2 separate regions of the Homo sapiens genome follow, and region 2 is linked to region 1. The links come from fine-mapping of genetic effects on gene expression. A gene starts in region 1. The other region holds a variant in brackets. All regions are shown on one strand. Distances are from middle to middle. Region 1 holds the start of JARID2-AS1 (JARID2 antisense RNA 1). Region 2 overlaps LOC105374946 (a long non-coding RNA gene).

The links. PIP is the estimated chance that this variant, and not a neighbour inherited with it, causes the effect.
Region 2: its variant is fine-mapped to the expression of JARID2-AS1 in whole blood (INTERVAL, PIP 0.94).

The regions. Positions count from the first base shown.
Region 1 is chr6:15,246,558-15,251,937 of GRCh38, forward strand. JARID2-AS1 (JARID2 antisense RNA 1) reads right to left here and starts at 2,139. Exons shown (of 2, transcript NR_120502.1): 1 at 1,953-2,139; 2 at 1,258-1,587. It overlaps JARID2 (jumonji and AT-rich interaction domain containing 2), which reads left to right. Exons shown (of 18, transcript NM_004973.4): 1 at 1-27. RefSeq lists silencers at 1,705-1,764, 1,885-2,364 and enhancers at 2,553-3,394, 5,083-5,380.
Region 2 is chr6:15,163,882-15,169,261 of GRCh38, forward strand. All of the region lies in intron 1 of LOC105374946 (a long non-coding RNA gene), which reads right to left. Among named protein-coding and RNA genes, the nearest start is that of JARID2-DT, 79 kb to the right of the region's middle. The variant T/A (reference allele first, on the strand shown) is at 2,775.

The sequences.
Region 1 (5,380 bases):
AAGAGGAATATCATTCAGAAGAAATACGTAAGTGCTCCTAACAACACATCCTTTGACTTGCAGTTTTAAGCAATGGCTGTGAATGTCAAGTTTATAGATAATTCTGCCTCTGAAGGGTTTTAAACACAGCGTCCGATAAGGCTGTTTCTTTTTTTTCTGAAAGAGGGCTTTTCAAGCAAAGTGGTGTCTGCCTAGTTTGGTTGAAAAAACAGACTGGTGTAGAGATACCTCAAGTGAATAAATTGACCTCGAATGACACAACCATAATCTACTTTTAGATGAAAGGCAAGGGATTTTGGTGGAGCTTGAGGTGGGGGGTGGCTGCGGTAATGTAACTAAACTGCATTCTCAAGCGGATTTGGCCCCGTATTGCACTTTGCATGCAAATGAGCCTGTGTTATTATTATTAATGTTATTTGGAAAAATCGTGTAACGCATGTGTGTTGGAAGCCCTTTAAGTTGCGATCGAGGGTCCGATTATGGCGATCTTCTCTTTGCACTGGCACATCAAATTTAATGTCTGTGGTCGTTTTGGCTTATCTGGTTTGCAACATAAACCAGTTGGGAATCATGTTACAGCGAATGCATTTGTTGGGATTGACTTTAATAATGAGGCTGGTTTTGTTTAAAAAATTCATGGTTTCCAGTTGTAGGGGAAAAGGACACACACTATGGCTAATGTTTTTAAGTGTGTACGTGAATGCATATGTAAGTAACTACAAATAATTTCTCCCTGTTAACTGGGCTTCTGAAATTGGGTGATTATTCCTAGATTTAAATGGCTTGGAATAGTTAAATTTGTTTTGTGCATAGTACAGCTACGTTTTGATTGGCATGGGGAGTGTTTTTGTTTTGTGTGTGGTGGCTTTTTTTTTTTTTTAAGTTTGAGGGGAGGGAGGAAAGGGGGACCGAGGGATTAACCAAATATGCACTCGAGTGATCTGTGATTAGCTGCATGCTTTAAATTAAATAACTCTTTTTTTTTTTCAAAAAAGGCCAAATGAACATACCTTAGGAATAATGCAACGTAAGAGGAAAGTTTATTTAAGTTGGGTAGACAAATTGGTGTTAATATTTTCCCTTTTTGATCATTGTGGTGTGTGTAATGAGAGATGACCTTCGGGGCACTGGTTTTGTAAAAAAATATATTTAATGGAAAAGCTGAATGCCTCTTCAAGAGAGCTGATCCTTATCTAGACACGTCAACTTCAACTATGAAAGAAATGCAAGGTTAAATAATCAAGCCCAACTTAGAAAGCTGTTCCATAAAGAATTTAAGAATTAAAATACATCCGCATTGCAGAGGGCTGGGTAGAATGCAAAGGACTAGTTTAAACTCGGGCTGTAGAAACTGCACTGAGGCAACCTTGTCTTGGAGCGTGGACGCCTTCCCGGGGCACGTCCGTTTCGGATGCAGCCACAAAGCAAATGGGGTAGAACTTGGACGAGAACCGCACCCCGCCTCCCATTCCGGACCTCGTTGAGGTGGAGAGCAGCGTGGGGTGGGTTTTCTTTCTTATTGCGGGCGTTCAGCGGATCGTGTCTCCGAGTCCGGGCGTCCGGCTGCAAGCCCGTGGCTGGCGGCGGCTGCGGGAGGCACGGCACGAGTTAATGCACCGGGAGCAGAGCCGGTGTTCCCGACGTCCTCGAGCCGGCTGCGAAAGGGACGGCCCGCGGGGGTCGCGGCAGGCTGGGCCGGGGCTGGGCGGGCGGGCGCGCGCGCGCGGCCTATAGGGGGCATACTCCGGGCTCTAGGCGGGCGCGCGAGGCGGGCACCGGTCTACCCGGGCCGGCTTGCAGGCGGGCAGGAGGGCGGGTGGGGCGCGGGGGTGGCGCGGCCTGCGGGGCGCGGGGAGGGGAGAGCGCGCGGGGAGGGGGTGGGAGCGGGGGCGGGGGCGTGGGCGTGCCGGGGAGGGGGCGCGCGGCGCACAGCTGCAGCGGGCGCCCCCCACCGCGCACACGGCCGAGCATGGCGGCGGCGGCCCGGCCGGCTTCCCGCGGCCCTGCCTGCGGGCTCCGACGCAGTCTCGAGAGCAACAGGTTAAGCCGGCGAGACGTCAGCGCGCCCCCTCTCCGCCCCCCGGTTCTTCCCCCGCCGCGCGCCGGCGCCCCAGCCCTTCTTCCCTCCCTCCGCCCCCCGCGGCGCTCGGTTCCCCGACGCTCCCGGCCGCACTCTGTTGTCATTGTGACGTCACAAAGGGACGGGCTCGGGTGGAACCTTCCCCTCCTCCTCCGTGACGTCAAAAGTCGGGCGGGAGGCTCCAGGCGCGGCGGGGCGGCGGGGGGAGGAGGGAGCTGGGCGGGGGCGGGGGCTGCCGCAGAGCCGGGCTGCGGCGTGGGAGGAGGAAGAGGAGGAAGATGCGCTCGGCCTCTGCCTTCCGCTCCGGAGCGTCGCGCTTCCCACCAGGTGAGGGCCGGGGAGCCGTAGGTCCCCAAAGGAGTGCCACTGGACCCTGTTCTGATGCCACTTGGGAAGCGGGGAGCGGGGAGGAGGCGCCTCCTTTCTGCAGGAATGTTTTCACTTCCTCTGTTCCAGGTCTCCTGATGGTGTTGCATTACTAGCGTGGTGCATGTGTCCCCTCTCCAGTGCTTATGTAAAGAAATGAAAGTATTCAGGGAAAGCTGTGCTTTGTTGGAGGACCGCGTTGTGGATTTGGCCACCTTGTCACTTGAAGTCGTGTTAGGGGTGCTTCAGCAGGATGTGGCCGGATGCCTTTCATGATGATGCTGCACAGCAGCAACTGTTGCTCTTTCTGGAAGCTTTGTGGTACTACGGTGGGGGGGCTTTCCTTTGCTGTGCCGGCTCTGTACCTACTGACTGTTATTTTGGGGGGCTGGACCAAAGGAAGACTTGTCATTGATAAATGTACTGAGAAGAGCACAGGACTCCTTTAAGTCTCAAGGTGCTCTGGGCTTAGTTCTTCTGAGCAGGGAAACCAGAGGCTGGCGTTCTGTTTTCTCTTTTGTAAAATGGAAAAATACCTGCCATTGCCACTTAACTAAGTCACTGAAAAGATCATGTGCATGGAAGATGTAAAACAGTATGCCTCTTTATAAGTAAGGTGGCATTATTACTTGAGCTGGTGGAAGGCAGCACGTTTCCCACAATTGGTCTCAAAAGCCCGGGATGCCTGCTGAGTTGCCATTTAGTTTATTACCTTAGCAAAGCAGAGTTGGGGGTGCGATTGTCGATAGTAGGCTTTGGGAGAAATGATTGTTATATTTCGTAATAAATGATGTCCTTGAGAAACTCATAAGTTGCAGTGTAATCCTGTCTTAATTGTGTTGAGCACGACTCCCACTGCAATACCTTAAATAACTGAAAACATTTGCCTTTGAAAGCCCCAATCGACTTGGACAATAAAAACAGTTGCATGTTTTGCTCTAGAGATATTTTCTGCCGTTTCCATCATTCCACTGCCTGGTTATTCCTAGGGAGAATAACAGATAGGATACTGGGGCTTCACCACTATTTGATCAGGTATCAGTTTGAAATAGAGAATCTCTGCCTTATGAAGATAGTAATTCCTGTAGTTAGCATGAAAACAAATTGCCAGTTTGATTTTCTAGGACAGCTCAAGCAGAATTTGTACCACTAGGCTGTAAGTTTTAAGTATCTAATTTTCTGATTTGAAAGTGTATGATTTAAAAATTGGAAAAAGTTTTTGTTATAAGCTTCAAAAGGATTTACTATAATTACAACTACGTAAAATTACAAAGAAAAAAGTAGGAAGAACACAAAATATACAGTGGTTGGATTTATGAGGTTTTTTGTTTTAAAACTTATTCATCACAAATTGTTCAGTCACGTTATTTTACAGTTGGTGGGGTGGTGGGGAAATTTGCACGTTATTTTATTGCTGTATTTTTTCTTTCCTGGGATGTTTACGTGGCTTTTCAGTTACTTGTTTCTAGTAGTGGAAAATCTTGCTCTGTGTTACTTAGGTGCAGGGCAGTGGCAGTTTAGCTCCTATCACTGTACAGGGACAGTATGGAAGGAAGACACAATGAAGTCCAAAGTGTCACTAAAATTTGAAAGAAAAATTATGTCGACAAGTAATCCAACTTGGTTTATTATCCAGGTTATATTATTTTACAGTAGGCTAATACCTAACTTGTGTGTCCCTGTAGCCACTGGCCCAAATAGACAACTAGAATTATTTGGTACTCGGTAATGCCTGTTTCCTCATAGTGGGTTAAACCAGTCCCTGTTGCTGGGCTGAAGGCTATTGACGCACTTCCAAGTGCCTTGGAAATAACTCCAGTGTTAATATATACCGTACTCCAAATGTTAAACTTTCCTCCTTCAGAACAAGACAATCTTTTGGAGTATATAATTGGTGTCTGTTACCTTCAAAATGGAACTTTTTTTTTTTTTTCAGAGAAGACACGAGAATGTCATATTAAAAGCGTAGTTCGTTAAAACACTTGGTGAAGGCTAACCTAGAGAGCATTTGTTTTTTTGTTTCCTTTTTTTTTTGAGACAGGGTCTTGCTCAGCCACCCAGGCTGGAACGCAGTGGTTCCTCACTGCAACCACTGTCTTCCGGGTTCAATCGATTCTCCTGTCTCAGCCTCCCGAGTAGGTGGGATTACAGGCACCCCCTATCATGTCCGGCTAATTTTTGTATTTTAGTAGAGATGGAGTTTCATTTCACCATATTGGCCTAGCTGGTCTTGAACTCCTGACCTCAGGTGATCTGCCCGCCTTGGCCTCCCAAAGTGCTGGGATTACAGGCGTGAGCCACTGCACCCAGCCAGCTGAACATTTTTAAGCTAGTGGTTTGCCCTTGCTCATGATGGTGTGAGGACTCACACTCCTGACATTGTCTGAATTCTGGCTGCATTGCTCTGATCATCCTGATGTTACTGGTCCACGTCTCCCCCAGGATTACAGTAGTAGCAGCTCTACTAACCACCTTTTGTCTACCCATCCTGCTTGCCCTGTTGGCTGCAGTATGTCCTGACTGATATCCCAGGATACAGGTCCTGGCCACCTCTGGGATGTACCTCTGTCCCCTTTGGCTTTCACCCAGAAGTCTTGCCAAGTGTCAGTTGTTTGTTCCCAAATCTGGTTATTCCAGTTGGGCTTATTATTGTAATTACAGTTAAGTATTATGTCAACCTTGAAACAGTGTGAAAAAGAGCGTGGTGGCTCATGCCTGTAATCCCAGCACTTTGGGAGGCTGAGGTGGGCGGATCATGAGGGTCAGGAGTTCAAGCCCAGCCTGACCAACATGGTGAAACCCCGTCTCTACTAAAAATACAAAAATTACCCGGGCATGGTGGCGCATGCCTGTAATCCCAGCTACTCGGGAGGCTGAGGCAGCAGAATTACTTGAACCCAGGAGGCGGAGGTTGCGGTGAGCCGCTTGAACCTG
Region 2 (5,380 bases), 83 kb before region 1:
GGACGTGGTGGCGGGCACCTGTAATCCCAGCTACTTGGGAGGCTGAGGCAGGAGAATGGCGTGAACCCAGGAGGTGGAGCTTGCAGTGAGCCGAGATCGTGCCACTGCACTCCAGCCTGGGCAACTGAGCGAGACTCCGTTTCAAAAAAAGAAAAAAAAAAGAGAAAATTTACTGACCTAGGAAAGAGAGAAAGAGAGAATAGAGAGAGAAAAATAAAGGCTATCTGTGACTCCTCAAAGAAGTTATTTCTATAAATGTCCAATAGGAGATCATTTTCAGAGTCTTTTACAGCTTCAGCATAATTGAGTACAACTTGCATGACTCAAATACACACTTCTATCCTGAAAATATCCTTTTCTATAATAATTTCATATTTTTGTTTCGTTTTGTTTTTAAGACAGGGTTTCTTTCACTCCTGCCACCCAGGCTGGAGTGCAGTGGCGCCATCTTGGCTTACGGCAACTTCTGCCTCCCTGGCTCAAGTGATTCTCCTGCCGTAGCCTCCCAAGTAGCTAGGACCACAGGCACGCGTGCCACCATGCCCAGCTAATTTTTGTATTTTTTGTAAAGACAGGGTTTCACCATGTTGCCCAGGCTGGTCTTGCACTCCTGAACTCAAGCGATCCGCCCACCTTGGCCTCCCAAAATGATGGGATTGCATACGTGAGCCACCAAGCCCAGCCTCGGCATTTTAAATTATGTTGAATACTTTCTCCTGAGATCCCAAATTTGGTACAATAGACATTAATATTTAAAACTGACAGTTGTAGCCGGGTGCGGTGGCTCAGGCCTGTAACCCCAGCACATTGGGAGGCCGAGGCGGGGGGATCACCTGAGGTCAGGAGTTTGAGACCAGCCTGACCAACATGAAGAAACCCCTGTCTCTACTAAAAATACAAAATTAGCTGGGCGTGGTGGTACATGCCTATAATCCCAGCTACTCAGGAGGCTGAGGCAGGAGAATAGCTTGAACCTGGAAGGCGGAGGTTGCGGTGAGCTGAGATGGCGCCATTGCACTCCAGCCTGGGTAACAAGAGCAAAACTCCGTCTCAAAAAAAAAAATAAAATAAAATAAAAAATAAAAATAAATAAATAAATAAATAAATAAATAAATAAAACTGACATTTGTAATTGATTTCAATATGTATTACATCATACTAAATATATCTGCTGTTCTCTTATTGTATATTGATATCAGAAAAGATTACCTGATCTCTTGCTTGAAAAAAAGAAAACATGTAGAATAAACATGCATTTTTTTTTTGAGACAGTTTCACTCTTCCGCCCAAGCTGGAGTACAACAGCACAATCTTGGCTCACTGCAACCTCTGCTTCCCTAGCTCAGGGGATCTTCCAGCCTCAGCCCCCGAAGTAGCTAGGACCATAGGCGCTTGCCCACGCCTGGCTAATTTTTGTAATTTTGGTAGAGACGGAGTTTCACCATGTTGGCCAGGCTGGTCTTGAACTCCTGAGCTCAGGTGATCCACCTACCTGGGCCTCCCAAAGTGCTGGAATTACAGGCATGAGCCACTGTGCCTAGTCAGGAGTTTCTCAGAGTTTGTATGAGATTCATCCAAAGAGCCACTCTTTCTTTTTTATTTTTATTTTTTGTTTTAATTAATTAATTTTTTTTTTTTTGAGACAGAGTCTTACTCTGTTCCCCAGGCTGGAGTGCAGTGGCATGATCTCTGCTCACCGCAACCTCTGCTTCCTGGGTTCAAGTGATTCTCCTGCCTCAGCCTCCTGAGTAGCTGGGATTACAGGCATGTGCCACCATGCCCGGCTAATTTTTGTATTTTTAGTAGAGACAGGGTTTCACCATGTTGGCCAGGCTGGTCTGGAACTCCTAACCTCAAGTGATCCACCCACGTCGGCCTCCCAAAGTGCTGAGATTACAGGTATGAACCAATTTTAATTTAAATATTTTATTTCTTTATGTGTTCAGAGTCAATAAGAATTCTCTTTCTCCTATTCTTTCCCACTTTTTATGGTCCCAATTCCAATCATCCTAGACTACCACCAAAATGTTCACTGGCTCCAGTTTAAGGTGATATTGACCTAGAAGTGTATGCATTATCAATTGTTAGACTTTCGAGGCCTAACAATTTTCCAGGGTCCAAAGGCCATCATTTGTAATGGTAGAATTTCAGCTATGTTGACGGATGGAGCCATTTTTGAAAACCAAGTCAATTCTCTTTAACTCAGGTTACAGAAGGAACTTCTTGTATGTAAGGCAAGTGCTGAATACAGATTTTGATTACTTTTCAGTTTATGTTAAAATTTCAAAGCCTAACAAAGATGAAAAGTCATCTACCAAAGAATGATGAACATTGACTCTCCGAGCCCTTGAATTCTAAACCACAGACTGATTGGAAACCCTTAGACCTCAGCGGCCCCACCCCCTATCGCACCCCCAGTGCTTCCGTTAATTAGTAGGGGTAAAGAGGGAGCCAGAAGGGAAGGGAGAACTGGGGCCTTACAATAGGATCTGTCAGGAGTCTAAGCTCCTCCTCGGAAGAAACCCTCTAGCCACAAGGATTACTGATGCCTGTAATTCTACAATTAAAGAATCATTGTTCTCTTAATAAAATGAAAATACCCTGGTGATAGTTTAAGTCTTACTCCATAACCTAATAGTATATCTCAACACCTACAACAGCAATACTTAGGATGTTTGGCAAAACTCACGATTCCTGGATGTCAACACAGAAATCACTGAATTTCGTCTTTTTTTTTTTTTTTAATTTTTTTTATTTTTATTTTTATTTTTTTG[T/A]GTGTGTGTGAGACGGAGTTTCACTCTGTCACCCAGACTGGAGTGCAGTGGCACGATCTTGGCTCACTGCAACTTCCGCCTCCTGGATTCAGGCAATTCTCTAGCCTCAGCCTCCCGAATAGCTTGGATTACAGGAGTGCACCACCATGCCCAGCTAATTTTTGTATTTTAGTAGAGGCAGGGTTTCACCATGTTGGCCAGGCTGATCTTAAACTCCTGACCTCAAGTGATCCGCCCAAACCGACCTCCCAAAATGATGGGATTACAGGCATAAGCCACCACACCCGGCCCAGAAATCACTGAATTTCTAACTCAAATTCTCATTTGATCCTTATGCACAGTGAAGTAGAACGACTTCTGGCTTAGAGCTAGAGAGAAATAAAGAGGAAGCAAGAGTAGAAGATGAAGCCCGGGCAACATAGCAAGACCTCATCTCTACAAAAAAAGAAAATGCATAAAAATTAGCGAGACATGGTGGTGTGCGCCTGTGGTCCCAGCTATTTGGGAAGCTGAGCTGAGAGGATCACAGAAGCCTGGAAAGTCAAGGCTGCAGTGAGCCCTGATCATGCCACTGCACTCCAGCCTGGGCAACAGAGCAAGACTCTGCTTCTAAGAAAAAGAATTGAAGATGTGGGATTGGGGTGAGGGGGATGTGGAATCAAAGATAAACACTCATGAATTATGGTGTATTTGACAATTTAAGCCACTCCTGAAAGGCACCGAGAAGGACCAAAAGGGAAATCAATGAGAAAAAGGAAAGGAAGGGTGCACAAATTTTATGCACCTGGCATGGACTTCTAAAATGTTGTTCTGCATTAAATAGGTCTCTACCACCTCATCAAGGAAAAAGTTTTGGTGTTGCTCTTCTTTCCTTTCCTTATTTCCTTTTTTTTTTTTTTGAGATGGAGTCTCACTCTGTCACCCAGGCTGGCGTGCAATGGCGCAATCTCAGCTCACTGCAACCTCCGCTGCCTCCCGGGCTCAAGCAATTCTCCCACCTCAGCCTCCCAAGTAGCTGGGATTACTAGCACACACCACCATGCCAGCTAATTTTTGTATTTTTGTAGAGACAGGGTTTCGCCAGGTTGGCCAGTCTGGTCTTGAACTCCTGACCTGATGTGATCTGCCCGCCTCAGCCTCCCAAAGTGCTGGGATTACAGGCATGAGCCACCGTGCCTGGCCACCCTTATTTCCTTTTTATTTAAAAAGGTTCCTTTCCATATTTAACATATAGAATTTTGCTTAGGAAATATGGGATTTGTGGAAAGTTAGGAAGGCATTTTTTACAAATAAATGCTGTGTATTAATGAATCCTACATCTTTTCCCACATTTATTTCTTCAAAGATGTCTACAAAGATAGTATTTTTGCAGGTTCTTTTTTTCTACGTAACACCTAACTTTAAAAAGGCAAAATATTATTCACACAAATATCTTTTACTCACTCTACCCAATATTAGAAGCATTATAGGCTCCAAAGACTATCATGATTAACCTTCCTCGAATAAAACTTTAGGGATCTGCTTTGAACCCACAAAAGAAATTAAATGCACAGTTAAGACTGATTTTCATCATCAAGTTGCAACAGGGAATTGTCTTTAAAGCCGTCTCCTGCTGCCTTCATTAGAGTCTTGATCTCTTGCTGCAAATTTATATTCCTTTGTGGGTTTAAGGCAGATATTGGGTATCCTTTTAATTTATTAGGCAAGCTATTGATGAGTCTCATTCTGCCACAAATTCATGAACAATATTCCCGTGGCCACTCTAGTGGGAGTCTTAAGTGAATACAACATCTTCAAGATAAGTGACCATTTTTCACAGGGTAAATGGTATATTAAAAAACCAACATGTGGCCAGGTGCGGTGGCTCACGCCTGTAATACCAGCACTTTGGGAGGCCGAGGCAGGCGGATCACAAAGTCAGGAGTTCAAGACCAGCCCGACCAACATGGTGAAACCCCATCTCTATTAAAAAATATATATATACAAAAATTAGCTGGGTGTAGTGGTTCATGCCTGTAATCCCAGCTACTTGGGAGGCTGAGGCAGGAGACTCACTTGAACCTGGGAGGCAGAGGCTGCAGTGAGCCGAGATCACGCCATTGCACTCCAGTCTGGGCAATAGAGTGAGACTCTGTCTCAAAAAAAAAAAACCCAAAATGTGCAAGTTAAAAACGTGTATCAGCCTCTGCTTTAAGATCCACTTTGAGGCTGGGCACAGTGGCTCACGCCTGTAATCCCAGCACTTTGGGAGGCCAAGGCAGGCAAATCCCTTGAGCTCAGGAGTTTGAGACCAGCCTGGGCAACATGGGGAAACCTCATCTCTATTAAAAATACAAAAATTAGCCAGGCGTAATGGCAGATGCCTGTAATTCCAGCTACTTGGGAGGCTGAGGCAGGAGAAATGCTTGAGCCCGGGAGGCGGAGGTTGCTGTGAGCCGAGATTGCACCACTGCACTCCAGCCTGGGCAACAATAATGAAACTCCATCTCAAAGAGAAAGCAAAACAAAACAAAACAAAAAAACAAGAGTCACTGGGTCTTTTCTAGCTCGGCAGGACGAAGAATGACAACTAACTCTAAAGCATCCATTCCATTCCATATTTATGG